4 linked regions of the Homo sapiens genome follow. The protein of the gene in region 2 purifies or fractionates together with the protein of the main gene of each other region. This does not show direct contact. Each region holds a gene or a part of one and is shown on either strand. Other genes may lie near its edges.

Region 1 (4,204 bases), on a different chromosome or scaffold from region 2:
CCACCCTTCATTGCTGGTTCAGAGCCAGCTCTGACCACATTCCTACCCTGAGATGGGACTCTGGGGACATTGTCCACCAGGGTCACTGACCCCTTTTAACGTTCCAGAAACATGGCCAGCTGGTCCCCTAGAAGTTTGGTATATGGGATAAGCCAAGGCTTGCCTTCAGCAACAGGTTTTCCACCACGTCACTGCCCAAGGCCCAGGGCATCCCCAAGTTCATGTGAAGCCTGCCTGCCATGTCCACAGCCCATACCGACCCCTCCTGGAGCCACTGGAATGCTTGTTCCTGGGCATGTGATGAACCCAGACAGCTTCCGCCTTGCAGGACAACTATGCGCATCTGGCAGCAGTAGCCAGAGGGCCCATAGAAAGAAGATGGAGGCAAAACCAGATGCTGTGAGAATACTTTATTAGTCAAAACCGCATACTATAAAAATGCTTTAAAACGCAGCAGGAGATGTGAAGACACAAATTAACAAGCGTATAGTGACACATGGCTGTCAGAACACAGTAAAGAATCCACACTGCTTCCCCCCTTTACCTAGAAAAGGAGAGTTCTAGGCCACCTCCTCCTCGGCATACTCCTCATCCTCCTCCTCCTCGGCCGTGGCATCCTGATATTGCTGATATTCAGACACCAGGTCGTTCATGTTGCTCTCGGCCTCGGTGAATTCCATCTCATCCATGCCCTCGCCCGTGTACCAGTGGAGGAAGGCCTTGCGCCTGAACATTGCTGTAAACTGCTCTGAGACACGCTTGAAGAGTTCCTGGATGGCCGTATTATTCCCAATGAAGGTGGCTGACATTTTTAGCCCCCGGGGTGGGATGTCACAGACGGCTGTTTTTACGTTGTTGGGGAGCCAGTCAGCAAAGTAACTGCTGTTCTTATCTTGAATGTTGAACATTTGTTCATCCACCTCCCTCATGGGCATGCGACCCCTGAAAATGGCAGCCGCCGTTAGGTAGCGGCCGTGACGGGGGTCACAGGCAGCCATCATGTTCTTAGCATCAAACATCTGCTGGGTAAGCTCAGCCACAGTCAAGGCCCGGTACTGCTGGCTGCCCCGGCTGGTCAGTGGGGCAAAGCCGGGCATGAAGAAATGCAGCCGGGGAAACGGGACCATGTTCACGGCCAGCTTCCGCAGGTCAGCATTCAGCTGGCCCGGGAAGCGCAGGCACGTGGTGACCCCACTCATGGTAGCAGACACCAGGTGGTTCAGGTCACCATAGGTGGGTGTGGGCAGTTTTAGGGTCTTGGAACATATGTCATACAGAGCTTCGTTATCTATGCAAAAGGTCTCATCTGCGTTTTCTATGAGCTGGTGGACTGAGAGGGTGGCGTTGTAGGGCTCCACCACGGTGTCCGACACCTTGGGCGAGGGCAGGATGCTGAATGTGTTTATGATCCTGTCTGGGTACTCCTCCCGGATCTTACTGAGCAGAAGGGTACCCATCCCAGACCCAGTCCCCCCACCCAGGGAGTGGGTCAGCTGGAAACCCTGCAGGCAGTCACAGCTCTCAGCCTCCTTTCTGACAACGTCCATCACTGACTCCATCAGCTCCGCGCCTTCGGTGTAGTGTCCCTTGGCCCAGTTGTTTCCGGCCCCACACTGACCTGTAAGACAGCACAGCCGGTCACTCGACGGCCAGGTATACGGTCATCAGTGGTCACCACCATAATGCAGAAAGAGCCAAGCGTCACACGTGAGGTGAGAGCACCGTTCGCCCTGCAGGTGGAGCAGATGAAACCCCCTCCCCCAGAGTTACAGGACAGCAGCTTCCCCTGTTAGGAATTAAGACAGGAGTCAAACCTGAGACGGGTTCACAGACCTCGCTGCAGGTGGCTCCTGCCCATTCTCAGGAAAGGCAGTAGCCACGGCCCCAGCTCAGGTTCTTGCAGGGAGTTTACATCAGTAACTCCTCACCTTGAGGAGACACCAGGGCCTTCCTCCCGAAGCCCATTTAGGAGAGGCAGATTGAGCGACTCGACTCGGAGGATAGGAGGGTGTTCAGGGGCCCTAGCTCCACAGTTCCCAGAGGATGACCTTAGCACACTCCTGGATTTTGAGCTGCCCTGGCTAAGGAGCCGCACCCCAGTCCTCGCCCGCAGCTCACCGAAGATGAAGTTGTCTGGCCTGAAGACCTGCCCGAAGGGCCCCGAGCGCACAGAGTCCATGGTGCCCGGCTCCAGATCCACGAGCACAGCGCGGGGCACGTACCTGCCACCTGCGTGGGGCGGGAGGGCATGAGCGAGGGGAGGGCCGCGTTCCCAGGAGGGCGGTGGGGGAAGGACGGGGGTCTCACCGCTGGCCTCGTTGTAGTACACGTTGATGCGCTCCAGCTGCAGGTGGCTGTCCCCGTGGTAGGTGCCAGCGGAGTCGATGGCATGTTCATCAGAGATCACCTCCCAGAACTGCAAGAGACGGGAGGAGACAGACAGGCCGGGGCTGAGTCAGGGAGGCGCCCCAGCCGCTCTCCCACCCCCACCCTCATCCGCACCCCCATCCCTAGGCCGCCCTGTCCCTGGGGTCCACCCCGGCCGCCTCGCCAGCCACCCGGTTCCACCGTCCCCGGCAGGGAGCCCAGGGGCCGCAATGCATGGGCACCGCCCCCGCCACTGCCAACACCTTCCCCGGCCACCCGGCAGGCCCGGGCTAGGCCCTCAGAGCCCCGGCTGCCAACCTTGGCGCCGATCTGATTCCCGCACTGCCCGATCTGCGTGAGCACGATCTCCCTCATGGCCAAGGCGGGATTAGGACGGCAGGAGAAACGTGAGAAGGAGGAGCAGACGCGCAGCGACCCAGCCCGCCCTCCGCCAACGTTTAAATAGCCCCGCGCCCACCTCCCTCCGCCTCGGATTCGGCTCCCAGAATAAGCAACAGCTTTACTTCCACACAGGTGCACCCACCTGTGGATCCCCTGGCGCTGAACATCTGTTGGAAAGCTCAGGTGTCCTTGCGTGGTCCTTTCCACGTTGGGGAAAGCTGCTCGCTGGAGAACTTCCTCCCGCGTCTTTAGTAAGACTAAATCCCTAGCTGAGCTGAAACTGAATTTTCCTCCCATGTGGGAGGGGAAGACTCTTGTTTCCATATGCACGGAGTGCCTTTGCACCTGTCCTAGATTGATGACATATTTTTGTAATTGATGAGTCTTTTCATCTATTAGGAGATCTGTGGTTAGGAAAGGCCTTCCACATGTGAACTCAACAGGACTCAATTATACGTTTTACTTTGGAGCAGTTCTAACCCACAATAAGCTATGGGTGTTAGAGACAGTCAGGCCTCTGATTTAGCTGGAGTCTTCTTTAGAGTAGGGTTAGCCCTTTCACCTTTCCAGAGGACTGTGGTCTCCAGCAGAGTGAAGGTCATATTGGATTCTTAAAGCTGAGGACAGGTTTTGGGATACGCCTGCTGTGAAAGATGGGCCATTGTCACTTTGCAGGCTTTTGGATTACCCAAACTGAGGAGTTATTTCTTCTGGTAAACATTTTTCAGATGGGGTGGGGAATGCCTCGATCTAACCAGTGAAGGTGTCAGTAAGCATTAGCAAATATTTGAATCTCCTGCAGAAAGGCTTCCGGGTAAATTAGAGTGGCCAGTTCTCACCTGGATAGGTTCCTCAATTTTGGACAGGTTTAACTGGAGAAGGAGAAAATTGCTGGCCATTTGAGTCATGTCAGGCACAAAGCTCACAGGGCTGAGTCACCTGTTTTAGTGTCTTGAAAAGATTTACCCCTATAAACAAATGAGACATTAACAGAAACAAAGAATCCCTTCTAGGGTGAAAAGAATCATGAAAGTGCTGAGTTATACTCCTGTGATTGGTACTTGGCATTAGTAATTTATTACCATCATTCAGCCCGAGGGGCCCTGGACTGAAATGCAATCCCTGGCCCATTTTCGTTCTTCTTCAGGGTATTCTGGCCCAGTTCTATGTATGCTGACCAGCACGCCCACAAGCTTCATTGGCCCTTTCAGTGCAGGGGCCTTGGCTGTGGCATCTACAAGGGCATTTCCTTTTACATGGTCAGTCTCTCTTTTGATGTCCTCTGCAATTAATTATACTCACTTTTTGGCAGCAAAGCAGCACTCTAACAAGCTCAAAATCTGAACGATGTTGTATGGAAAAGCCCTTGGGGGTCAGGAGTCCCCACCCATTCCAAATTGCAGCATAAGCATGAAGCACTAAAAAATCATACTTG
Region 2 (3,500 bases):
CAGAGGGCAGGGGGAGGGTCACAGGCTGAGCCGGCTAGGCGGGCACCAGGGCAGTGCCTGGCCCCCTGAAGCCCCACCCCGCCCACTCACAGGCTTGACATCCAGCAGGATGGAGGACTTGGCCACCAGTGCAGGCTTCTTGGCCTTCTTCTCCGCGTACTGCCGTAGCCGCTCCTCCCGCAGCTGTGCCGCCTCCTTGTCCTCCTCCTCATTGTCACTGCCAAACAGGTCAATGTCATCATCCTCGTCATCCTCTGCTGGTGTGGCTGGCTTCTTGGCTGGGGGCTCCACTTGGCGCATGGGAGATACGTGCTGCCACAGGGGAAGGGACAGGAGGCACGGCTGAGACGCCCCAACCAGGGCCCAGAGCTGCCTGGCCACCTCCTGGCCCTCCTCCCTCCTTTGACTGGAGGAAGGGCAGCCCCTGTGTACCGCAGCTGTGTACATGCAGGGCCCCAGGAAAGACAAAAACTGCCTCCACCTGCCCAGGGCTAACTGTAAACCTTCCTGGGGACCTGAGGACTCCAGTATCCTGGCTGCCAGCTCATCACTGCTGCTGGGGCCAGCCCACAGGGCGACGTGGAAGCCAGCAGGGCCACGTGGTCCCCTGCAGTGTCAGGCGTGGGGAGAGCATTCACCTGGGTCTGTGGGGCCGTGGCCCGGTGGCCAGGCGAGCTCTTCTCCAGCACGTTCAGCCGGGCCTCCAGCTTGGAGATGGCCTGCTGCAGCTCCTGTACCACTGGGGGGGCAAGGGGAGCACGGTTAGATGGCAGGGGCCAGGGACAGCCCCAACCCACTGGCCCGGGGCCTCACCGCCACGCAGACTCTGGTTCTCCACTTCCAGACTGGCAATCCGGACGACGAGCTCACCGTGGTCTCCGCTGGTGCCGCTGGAGGCCCCGGGGCCTGAGCTCTGCAAGGCAGGAGGAGGGGAGGGCTCAGTGCCCAGCCTGCTCCTAGGGTCCCCCTGCCATGCTCAGGACTGCAGGAACTCACGGAAGGAAAACTACAGCTCGGGAGAGCAGGAGGTGCCCCCCGCTGATGCCCAGCTCAAACTTATGACCTCAGAGGTGGCGGCCACCACAGACCACAGTGAAATTCTCAGCCAGGCAAAGTCCAGGACAGGAGGCTCTTGGTGCCCCAGAGACGGAGGCTGTGGGGAGCTGGGCCATGGCTGCTGCTGCCCGGCGGAATCCTGCTGAGCAGCCAGGCTCAGAGGCTGGGTGGGAGGTGCTGAAGGACTCACAGTCCTAGGGACAACCTGGGACACGCCTCAGGGGACCAGGCAGCACTGGAAATGGGAGGCGGGAGCAGCTGAGGGCCCAGTGGGGGAAGAAGGAAGGAGCCCACCTGTGTGGACAGCAGCCACCCAAAGCTTTGTCTCCCTGGGCCTCACGCCTGCCATCTCACTCAGCAAGCCAGTCTCTAGGTGATCCAGGGCCCCAAGCCCACCTCATACTCTGCCATAGCTGAGACTGATACCTCGGGGCCCAGACAGGATCCCAGCCTCCTGGCCCTTAACACTAGCCAGTCCTTAAGCATCTACCTGCACGCATGGGCCATTTAGCCTGCCCACCCTCCAACAGGATGGCTCGAAGGACAGGGTGCACCTGGCTGCATGGAGCTCTCAGCAAACCCCATCTCGGCAGCTCCCCGGGGCTCCCTCTCTGTGGGGAGGGGCCTGGAGTAGCCGGGCAGGCAAAGCCGCTCCTTGCAGCAGGTGCGGACATACTCAGGCCTTTGCCCAACGTGCAAACCCATCCCTGGGGCCCTCCTGCCACCGTCCTTGGGACCATGCTGTGGGGAATGCTTGTTTATGTATCTGGAGGGTGTGGGAGCTAAGCCCCGCAGATCATGGGCAAGGCCGAGCCAAACTGGCCCAGGAGGCCCACCTGGCAGCAAGGCCAGGAGGAAATGGACAGGGAAAGGCCAGGCTGGCAGAGGCGCGTGAATGGTGGTGGGGGTACGGGAGGCACCGGCAGAAACTGACAAACTCGGGGGCAGAAGCCGGAGCACGGGAGGGCCAGGCTTTGGGGCGCCAGGGGGCATGGAGAATCACAGCAGACCTCCCGCGGGAGTGGGGCTGGGTCCTGAGGAGGCCGGAGTCTGTGAGTGGCACCTGAGGCCTCATGCACCCCACACAGCAGGCCCAAGGACAGGGAAAAGGTCCCCTCTGGAAGAGGCACTAAGTCAGCACTGGCCCCGGGCTGCATGATGAGCAGCGGGGGCCGTCTCACCACTGCCTGGCTCTGCGGGCCACTAGGCCAGAGCCCACAGCACTCAGGACACAGGGAGAGTCCCCTCCTTTGATGCTGACTCAGGGGGGACTAGGGATGCCAGGCATCAGAATCCCTGAGCACAGCTTCAACGGGCAGGCTCAGGTCACCCAGTGCAGTCACAGCGGGCCTCAGAGAGCCCCTCAGGGACTTGGGGGATGCCAAAGGCAAACACTTCAGAGCCAGACCCATGCCTGTAACCCTGTGCCAGCACCACGCTACCAGAAACCCTGCAGTTCTGAAACCCCAGTGTCTGCTGAGCACTCCCACCCCAAATCCAAGATGAGACTGGGCCCCTGCCATGGGCTGAATAATGTCCTTCCAAATCCACATGCTGGAGTCTTATCCCCCGGTATCTTAGGATGTGACCTTATTTGGAGACAGGGCCTTTGCAGAGGTAACTGTCACTGAGGGGCAGGGGGCTAATCCAATCTGACTGGTGTCCAATAAGAAGACATCAGGACACACACACACTCAGATGGATGACCGTGTGAAGACATGGAGAAGACGGTCTACATGCTGAGAGAGGCCTCAGGAGAAACCAGCCTTGCTGCCACCTCGATCATGGACTTCCAGCCTCCAGAGCTGTGAGAAAATACATGTGGTTTAAGTCACCCAGTCTATGGACCTTTGTTATAGCAGCAAACCAGTCCCTAAGCCCTAACAGTGCGACCACCTGCCTGTCCCAGAGACACCTTAGGGTTGACTCCACACAGCCAGGGCTGAAGAGTTCCTGCAGCCCCAGGGCCAAGCCCCCGACCGCTGCCTTCTGGGCACTGGAGTGCAATATGCCTGACTTGGGCGCAAAAATCTGTGCTCCCTTAATCTCATGTCTGCCTAGCCTGGACTTGGTCAGGTGCCTGGGCAAGCCAGGGGTGCAAGCCAGTGGGCAGAACGCAAGGCACAAAGGAGCACCCCACCTGGCAGACAGGAGTGGCAGCCCTTCCTGGGCCCACCCACCCAGGGATGCCCAGCTTATGGCCCGGGAGCCAGCACACCCCTAGGTGGCTGTGGCTGTGGCAGACAGAACAATGGCCCCCACAAAGCCACATACGAGTCCGCAGAGCCTGTAAATATGGTCTCCCATGGCAAAGGGATTCTGTAGATGTGATAAGATTAAGTTAAGCGGCAGAGAGGATGCTGGATCACCCAGGTGGGCCCACTGTCATCACAAGGGCCCACACTAGGCAGCAGGAGCGAGGGAGGGGAGAGGGAGGCTGAGTG
Region 3 (3,500 bases), on a different chromosome or scaffold from region 2:
GGCTGTGTGGCAGTCGATGACCGGGGAGTAGCCGGCGCTAATCTGCCCCGGGTGGTTCAGGATGATGACCTGCGAGCGGAGCCACAGGCGGCCATCAGGCACATCGGCGGTGGGCACCGGGAGGGCGCCAGAGCGGGGCTGGGAGGCCCAGTCACCGGCGCCCCTGCACGGGCTCCTGGGCCCGGAGTGCTGACTGGAGGGGGCTCAGGCTCTGAGGACCCAGCCCCCAGACCTGAACCTCAACATCCTCATTAAGCAAAAGATAAACAACTGAGATTCATTGTTTCGAAGGGGCAGGGGCAGCACTTACACGGCCAACCCCAGCTGGAACTAAGGCGGGGGGGTGACAAAACTGGACCTCAATTCCTGTGTTTCAGTTGTATCTCAATAAAGCCACTTTTAAAAATCATATGAAGAGGCCAGGCACGGTGGCTCACACCTGTCATCCCAGTACTTTGGGAGGCTGACGCACGTGGATCACTTGAGGTCAGGAGTTCGAGACCGGCCTGGCCAACATGGTGAAACCCCGTATCTACTAATAATACAAAAATTAGCCAGGCGTGGTGGCACATGCCTGTAATCTTACCTACTTGGGAGGCTGAGGCAGGAGAATCACTTGAACCCGGGAGGCGGAGGTTGCAGTGAGCCGAGATCGCACCACTGCACTCCAGCCTGGGCAACAGAGCGAGACTCCGTCTCAAAAAAAAAATAAATAAATCATATGAAGAGGCCAGCAAAGAGGGGCAATGAAGACTGTAGAGAATAAAAGTATGACAGAGATGTCTCAGACAGTAAGTTAACAAAAGCGTTTTTCTAGGACGAATGTAGGACCTCAAAGGCTGGGCATCCCAGCAGTGCAGCGTGGAAGACAGACCCGCGATTGCACACAGGCTGGGAGCCACAGGGCCTGCACCCCTCCCAGAACTGATTGATCCCCTCGTTGAGTGCTCGGTGGCCCCCTCGGTGGTATGCGGGTCCCTTTTCTTTTTTTTTTTTTCTTTTGAGACGAAGTCTCGCTCTGTCACGCAGGCTGGAGTGCAGTGGCGCAATCTCGGCTCACTGCAACCTCCGCCTCCCAGGTTCAAGCGATTCTCCTGCCTCAGCTTCCTGATAGCTGGGACTACAGGCACGTGCCACCACGCCTGGCTAATTTTTGTATTTTTAGTAGAGACGGGGTTTCACCATGTTGACCAGGATGGACTTGATCTCTTGACCTCGTGATCTGCCCGCCTCGGCCTCTCAAAGTGCTGGGATTACAGGCGTGAACCACTGCGCCCAGCCTGAGGGTCTGGTTTTCTCCCCACGCCAGGCCACCTGCCGACAGCAGCCTCACCCAGGACAGTCCTGCTGCTGTCCAGCAGGCGCCAGCCCCCTGGACCCAGCGCAGCCCCCCACCTGGGAGGTGAACTGAGCAGCCTCCTGCGGCGGGTCAGACTTGCTGTCCCCACACACGTTGCCCCGCCGGATGTCCTTCACCGACACGTTCTTCACATTGAAGCCGACGTTGTCGCCGGGCAGAGCTTCGCTCAGAGCCTCGTGGTGCATCTCCACTGACTTCACCTCAGTGGTGATGTTCACTGGCGCAAAGGTCACCACCATGCCCGGCCGCAGGATGCCGGTCTCCACCCGGCCCACGGGCACCGTGCCAATGCCTGCAGAGGGGAGGGGGTGTGAGGGGAAGGTGGGGCCCGAGGGGATGCTGGGGCAGGATATTCGGGGACAGAGCCTGGAAACCAACAAAGCCTGGGACTGGATCCCCCCGACAGGCCTGGGGGTTGGGGCCACATGGGCGGAGTGCAGGGGAAGGGAGGCCAGGGACAAGGGCAGACACAGAGATTCCAAGGGAAGTGGGGGCTCTCCCACCCAGCTGGGGAAATAAGAGGCTGAGCAGCAGAGCTCCCAGGAACCCACGGAAAAGCCACAGGGACAGAGAAGCGGGAGGATGGGCAGAGAGGGGCTGTCTGAACCTGGGGTCCCATCCTTGCCCCCGGAGAGCACTTTCCCTCAAAGGAGGCACTATGGGACCCCTCCTTTGTCTGAGGACTCCTCCCTGTGAGTGTGGGCGGGGCGACTGACTGCTTCTGCCTGGGGCCTGGTGGCCCTGCTCCCTGCTCCCTGCAGGCCCTGCTCCCTGCTCCCTGCAGGCTCTCTGGGCCCCACTTGGATGCTGCAGGTCTCTATCACTAAAGGGGCCTCTCAGCCAGATGCAGCACAGGCACAGCGGCACATGAGCGTCCCTGGCATTTCTCATGGATCTACTTAAACCAATTGTGCAGCTGCCACATGGGGGTCTTGTCCCCCCCCAGGCTACTGGGTCTCCACCCTCACCTCCCAGGGCTGTGAGGGAGGCCTGTTGTAGCCTCCAGCCAACTTCACTGAGGCCAGTGGCTGTGCTCTGTGCTGGGGTGAGCATGATGCCCCCACAGTGCACACAGAGATGCCTGCAACATCTTTGGCTGCAGCCCACTGGCTGGGGGTCTCCTATCAGTGCCCTTCTCTAGGGTCTCAGATTTGTTTATGGTTTCTCTTCTTGGTGGGATGGATGGATGGATGGACGGATGGATGGGGAGGTGGGTGGATGGATGGATGGATGTATGAATGGGGTGGTAGATGGATGGGGAGGTGGATGGACAGAAGGATGGGTGGGGAGATGGATGAGTAGGGAGATGGATGGATGGATTGGTGGATGGATGGATGGATGGATGGATGAGGAGGTAGATGAGTGGATGGACAGAAGGATGGATGGGTAGGAAGGTGGGTGGATGAATGGATGGATGGGGAGGTGGATGGATAGATGGATGGATGGATGGATGGATGGATGGATGGATGGGGGGATAGATGGATGGATGGATGGATGGACGGACGGATGGGGAGGTGGATGGATGGATGGATGGATGGATGGATGGATGGATGGATGGATGAGGAGATGAACGGATGGATGAGATGGATGGATGGATGATGGAGGGAAGGATGGCTGGGTGGGGAGATGGATGGATAGAGAGGTGGATGGGTGGATGGGGAGATGGATGGATGGATGGATGGATGGGGAAGTGGATGGATGGGGAGGTGGATGGATGGATGTATGGGTGGGTAGGTGGGTGGATAGATGGATGGATGGATGGATGGATAAATGGATGGATGGAAGGATGGATGGATAGGTAGGTGGGTGGATGGATGGATGGATGGATGTACAGAAGGATGGATGGGTGGGTAGGTGGGTGAGTGGATGAATGGATGGATGGATAGATAGAAGGATGGATGGGTGGGTCAATAGATGGATGGATAGAGAGAAGGATGGATGGGTGGGTAGATGGATGGATGGATGGATGGATGGATAGAGAGAAGGATGGATGGTTGAGACAATGGATGGATGGATGGATGGATGGAGAGATGGATGGATGGATGGATGGACAGAAGGATGGATGGGTGGGGAGGTGGATGGATGGATGGAAGGATGGATGGATGGATAGAGAGAAGGATGGATGGGTGGGACAATGGAT
Region 4 (3,500 bases), on a different chromosome or scaffold from region 2:
ATTGCCCTGCAAAACCTCTAGATGCTGTGGGAGACTGGGTCCAGGCTGCTTAGTGGCTCAGATACTGAGATTCTTCTCCTAAGACATTGAGATCCCCACTCCTCTTGAGTGGTTATAGAGGAAGGAAACAGAGTAGGAATCAAATCCAAATTTTGACATGAGGGCATTTTAAAGAAGGGACTGAGAAGGGAGACTGTTTTCAATGTCTTGGCATTGTGTTCTAAGAAAAATCACTCTCGGCCGGGCGCGGTGGCTCACGCCTGTAATCCCAGCACTTTGGGAGGCCAAGGCAGGCAGATCACGAGGTCAGGAGATCGAGACCATCCTGGCTAACACGGTGAAACCCTGACTCTACTAAAAATACAAAAAACTTAGCCAGGCGTGGCGGCGGGTGCCTGTAGTCCAGGCTACTCGGGAGGCTGAGGCAGGAGAATGGGATGAACCTGGGAGGTGGAGCTTGCAGTGAGCCAAGATCGCGCCACTGCACTCTAGCCTGGGCGACAGAGCGAGACTCCGTCTCAAAAAAAAAATTTTCAAAAAAAAAAAAATCACTCTCATCACAGAAGGAACACATTACTTTGACCTTTCTAAGACCTTCACAAGAAGAGGGTTTAAAACACTCATGACGAAGAAACTTCCTAGCATATGCTCTCCCTGGGGACAACTCTATCAGCTGCTGTGGCAACACACTTCTCCCACACTGTCACTCGGCGTTGAGCGAGACTGAGTCACACTTTTCATTCCAGTCTTAACCTCTACAAAGTCTTAGGGGAGCTCATGGAGGCCTTTGAATCCTGGGTAAGGCAGCATTTATATTTCCAAATGGGTTCTGACCTCTGGCCGTGGGCAGTGACAGTGTGATCCACAGCCAGGGCACTCTCACGTTTGATCATCGAGGGAGGATACCAGGAACTGGCCTTCCGAGAACACACTCTCAAGCTGGGTGTTAAAAAGGAAATCGCACCCTGCTCAGCCATGGATGGATTCAGTGGGTAGGAGGATGGGGACAAGAAGGTCTGGAACATGGTACAGTCAACCCTCACTTTTTGGCAGGTACCCACCAACCAAAACTCCTCTGGGTACTTACAAGATTTCTCAGAACTCTGCCAAAATGGACACCACATTATAATCACTACATTCAAAAATCCTAAGGCCAGGCATGGTGGTACAAGCCTGTGATCTTAGCACCTTGGGAAGCTGAGGAGGGAGGATCGCTTGAGCTCTGGAGTTCAAGGCCAACCCAGGCAACATAGTGAGACCCCATCTCTATTTAAAAAAAAATAAAAAATCCTCTAAAACACTCCCCTTCTCTAGAGAAACGAACATTAGGGGCCTGGGTCACCCTCACTGAGGCTCCATAAACCCCGAATCGTTTCCCAACAACCATGTGCTCGAGGGGTGGTCTTTACCGAGTCGCGATTGGCACTGGTTGCAGACCGTGACACAGTGAACAGCCACGCACAAAGCGGGGCCTGTTCACAGCCGAGGACTGTGGGGCTCTGTGCAGCCTTGTGGTTTCCAACTTCTAAACTCCAGCAGAAAAGCCAAGGCTGGAAAATGAACTTTTAATCTTACTCAACATAGGCAAACACAGAATACAAAAACATATTCTCTGTTGGGACCCAGAATCGAGAAAAACAAACTCGGGAGAATATTTTTCCTTTGCAACGCACACAAATATATGTTTTATAGCAGCACAAATGTGTCTTCCCAACTTTTGCAGAAAAAGAAATTACATCCCCACCACTAATTCCCAAGTTAGAATTTTTTAAAAGAAATCTTTCACAAGAAAATGAAAAGCCCTAGTCTTAAGTAGTAATACACTGAAACATTTAAGGCTAAGGCAATACCACCACGGACAGCAAAGAAATCGAAATGAAAAACAACCTTTCTGCTGCTTTGCAGAGTCAGCTTCAGTGAGGCGTAAACATCATGCTGGGAGATCCCTGATTCACAGAAATGATGAAGCCAGGGATGCCTCTCAAATTCGGTTCTCACAATCAGCATTCCGGGAGATTTGCTCCTGAAATCCACACCATGATAAGAGGCCCCCAACAGAAACCTCTTCTAGGGCTTCCTCCACTGCACCAGAGTTAGGGCAGATGTGTGCCCACCCATACCTTGTAGGGTCTGACCACAGGGATCTATATTCTGTCAATTCCAGAAACTTCTGTCAAATACGTACTTTTACTCCCTGCAGTGGTCCTCCCTTATCCTCTGGGAAACTTCCCAACACCCCCAGTGGGTCTGAAACTGCAGTAATACTGAATCCTATATACACTATTTTTTTCCTATACCTACATACCTATGATGAAATTTAATTTAGAAATTAGCCACAGTACGAGATTAACAATAATAAAATAGAACAATTATAACCATATGCTAGCATCACCACTCTTGCACTTTGGGGCCATGATTAAGTAAAGTAAGGGTGACTCAAACACACGCACTGTGATACCAGACAGTGGATCTGAAAGCTGAGAGGGCCACCAAGTGACGCACAGGCAGGTAACACAGACGGCGTGAATCCACTGCACACGGGATCGTTCACATCCCAGGCAAGACGCTACTCAGAATGGCATGCAACTTAAAACTCAGGAAGAGTTTCTTTCTGAAATTTTCCATTTAATATTGTCAGACCACAGCTTTCTGCTGGTAACTGAAACCACAAAGAGTGAAACCATAGATAAAGGGGGACTACGATATTGCTAACATACTCAGACTGTAAGACAAAAAGATGAAGGCCCCAAGAGGGAAGGATGTAGGAGGCTGCGCAGAGGCTGGACAGACTGAACTCACTGGCCCACCTCTAAGATCTTGAGAGAATGGCTCTTCTTCTGTTCTTAAGATTCGGGGAACAAAAGTAAGAGGAAGCCCCAAACTCTTTAGACACAGAAGATATCTGCTAATTCACATGGCCCGGCCAAGCCAGTTGGGTCCAATTTGGCAGCTGGGATTTTGGTAGGTTTTGTGAAAAGACCCTCAACAGCTCCCAGGACTCTGTCTCATTACTAAGCAGCAGCTCCACGGGGGACCGTGTGTGGAAGCTTGGAGAAGCTGTGGGGTAGGGGTGGACAAAGAAAACCAACCCCCAGATCCATTTCCTGGGCATAAGGTGACCTGCTAGGAAGGTACAGAACTAAAACAGAATGACAATAAAACAGAGACCCTAGCAGACATGGCTACATCAGAATCAACAGCTCCTAATTTTTAAAATATTATGAAATGACTCATACAAAAGACTAAAAAGAAAAATATGAACATCCATTAGCCTACCACCCAGGTTTACCAAACCCTAACATTTTGCCATATGCACTTTAGATATTTATTTATATATATATGTATGTGCCTGTGTATACATATATATGTGGGGGGGGGACACACACACATGTGTATATGTATATATATGTCATCTCCCTTCTAGAGGGGGACAACACCCTGAATGGGCCACTTACCACTTCCACCTGCTTTTGCTTCTATTACATGTATCTATCTCTACC

The links. The genes of interacting proteins can lie anywhere in the genome.
Region 1: the proteins of EEF1D (region 2) and TUBB8 purify together in Homo sapiens (affinity purification with mass spectrometry; 2 studies listed by BioGRID and IntAct, with this or other methods). This does not show direct contact.
Region 3: the proteins of EEF1D (region 2) and EEF1A2 purify together in Homo sapiens (co-immunoprecipitation; 4 studies listed by BioGRID and IntAct, with this or other methods). This does not show direct contact.
Region 4: the proteins of EEF1D (region 2) and RRBP1 purify together in Homo sapiens (affinity purification with mass spectrometry; 3 studies listed by BioGRID and IntAct, with this or other methods). This does not show direct contact.

The regions. Positions count from the first base shown.
Region 1 is NC_000010.11:46,497-50,700, forward strand, and holds TUBB8 (tubulin beta-8 chain), read right to left. Parts: upstream 2,801-4,204; 5' UTR 2,743-2,800; coding exon 2,686-2,742; intron 2,417-2,685; coding exon 2,308-2,416; intron 2,230-2,307; coding exon 2,119-2,229; intron 1,963-2,118; exon of another isoform or gene 1,929-1,962; intron 1,787-1,928; coding exon of another isoform or gene 1,619-1,786; coding exon 561-1,618; 3' UTR 392-560; downstream 1-391. UniProt on the Homo sapiens protein: Tubulin is the major constituent of microtubules, a cylinder consisting of laterally associated linear protofilaments composed of alpha- and beta-tubulin heterodimers.
Region 2 is NC_000008.11:143,580,416-143,583,915, forward strand, and holds part of EEF1D (elongation factor 1-delta), read right to left. Parts: intron 914-3,500; coding exon 814-913; intron 740-813; coding exon 639-739; intron 313-638; coding exon 91-312; intron 1-90.
Region 3 is NC_000020.11:63,489,084-63,492,583, forward strand, and holds part of EEF1A2 (elongation factor 1-alpha 2), read right to left. Parts: intron 1,653-3,500; coding exon 1,396-1,652; intron 70-1,395; coding exon 1-69. UniProt on the Homo sapiens protein: Translation elongation factor that catalyzes the GTP-dependent binding of aminoacyl-tRNA (aa-tRNA) to the A-site of ribosomes during the elongation phase of protein synthesis.
Region 4 is NC_000020.11:17,661,743-17,665,242, forward strand, and holds part of RRBP1 (ribosome-binding protein 1), read right to left. Parts: intron 1-3,500. UniProt on the Homo sapiens protein: Acts as a ribosome receptor and mediates interaction between the ribosome and the endoplasmic reticulum membrane.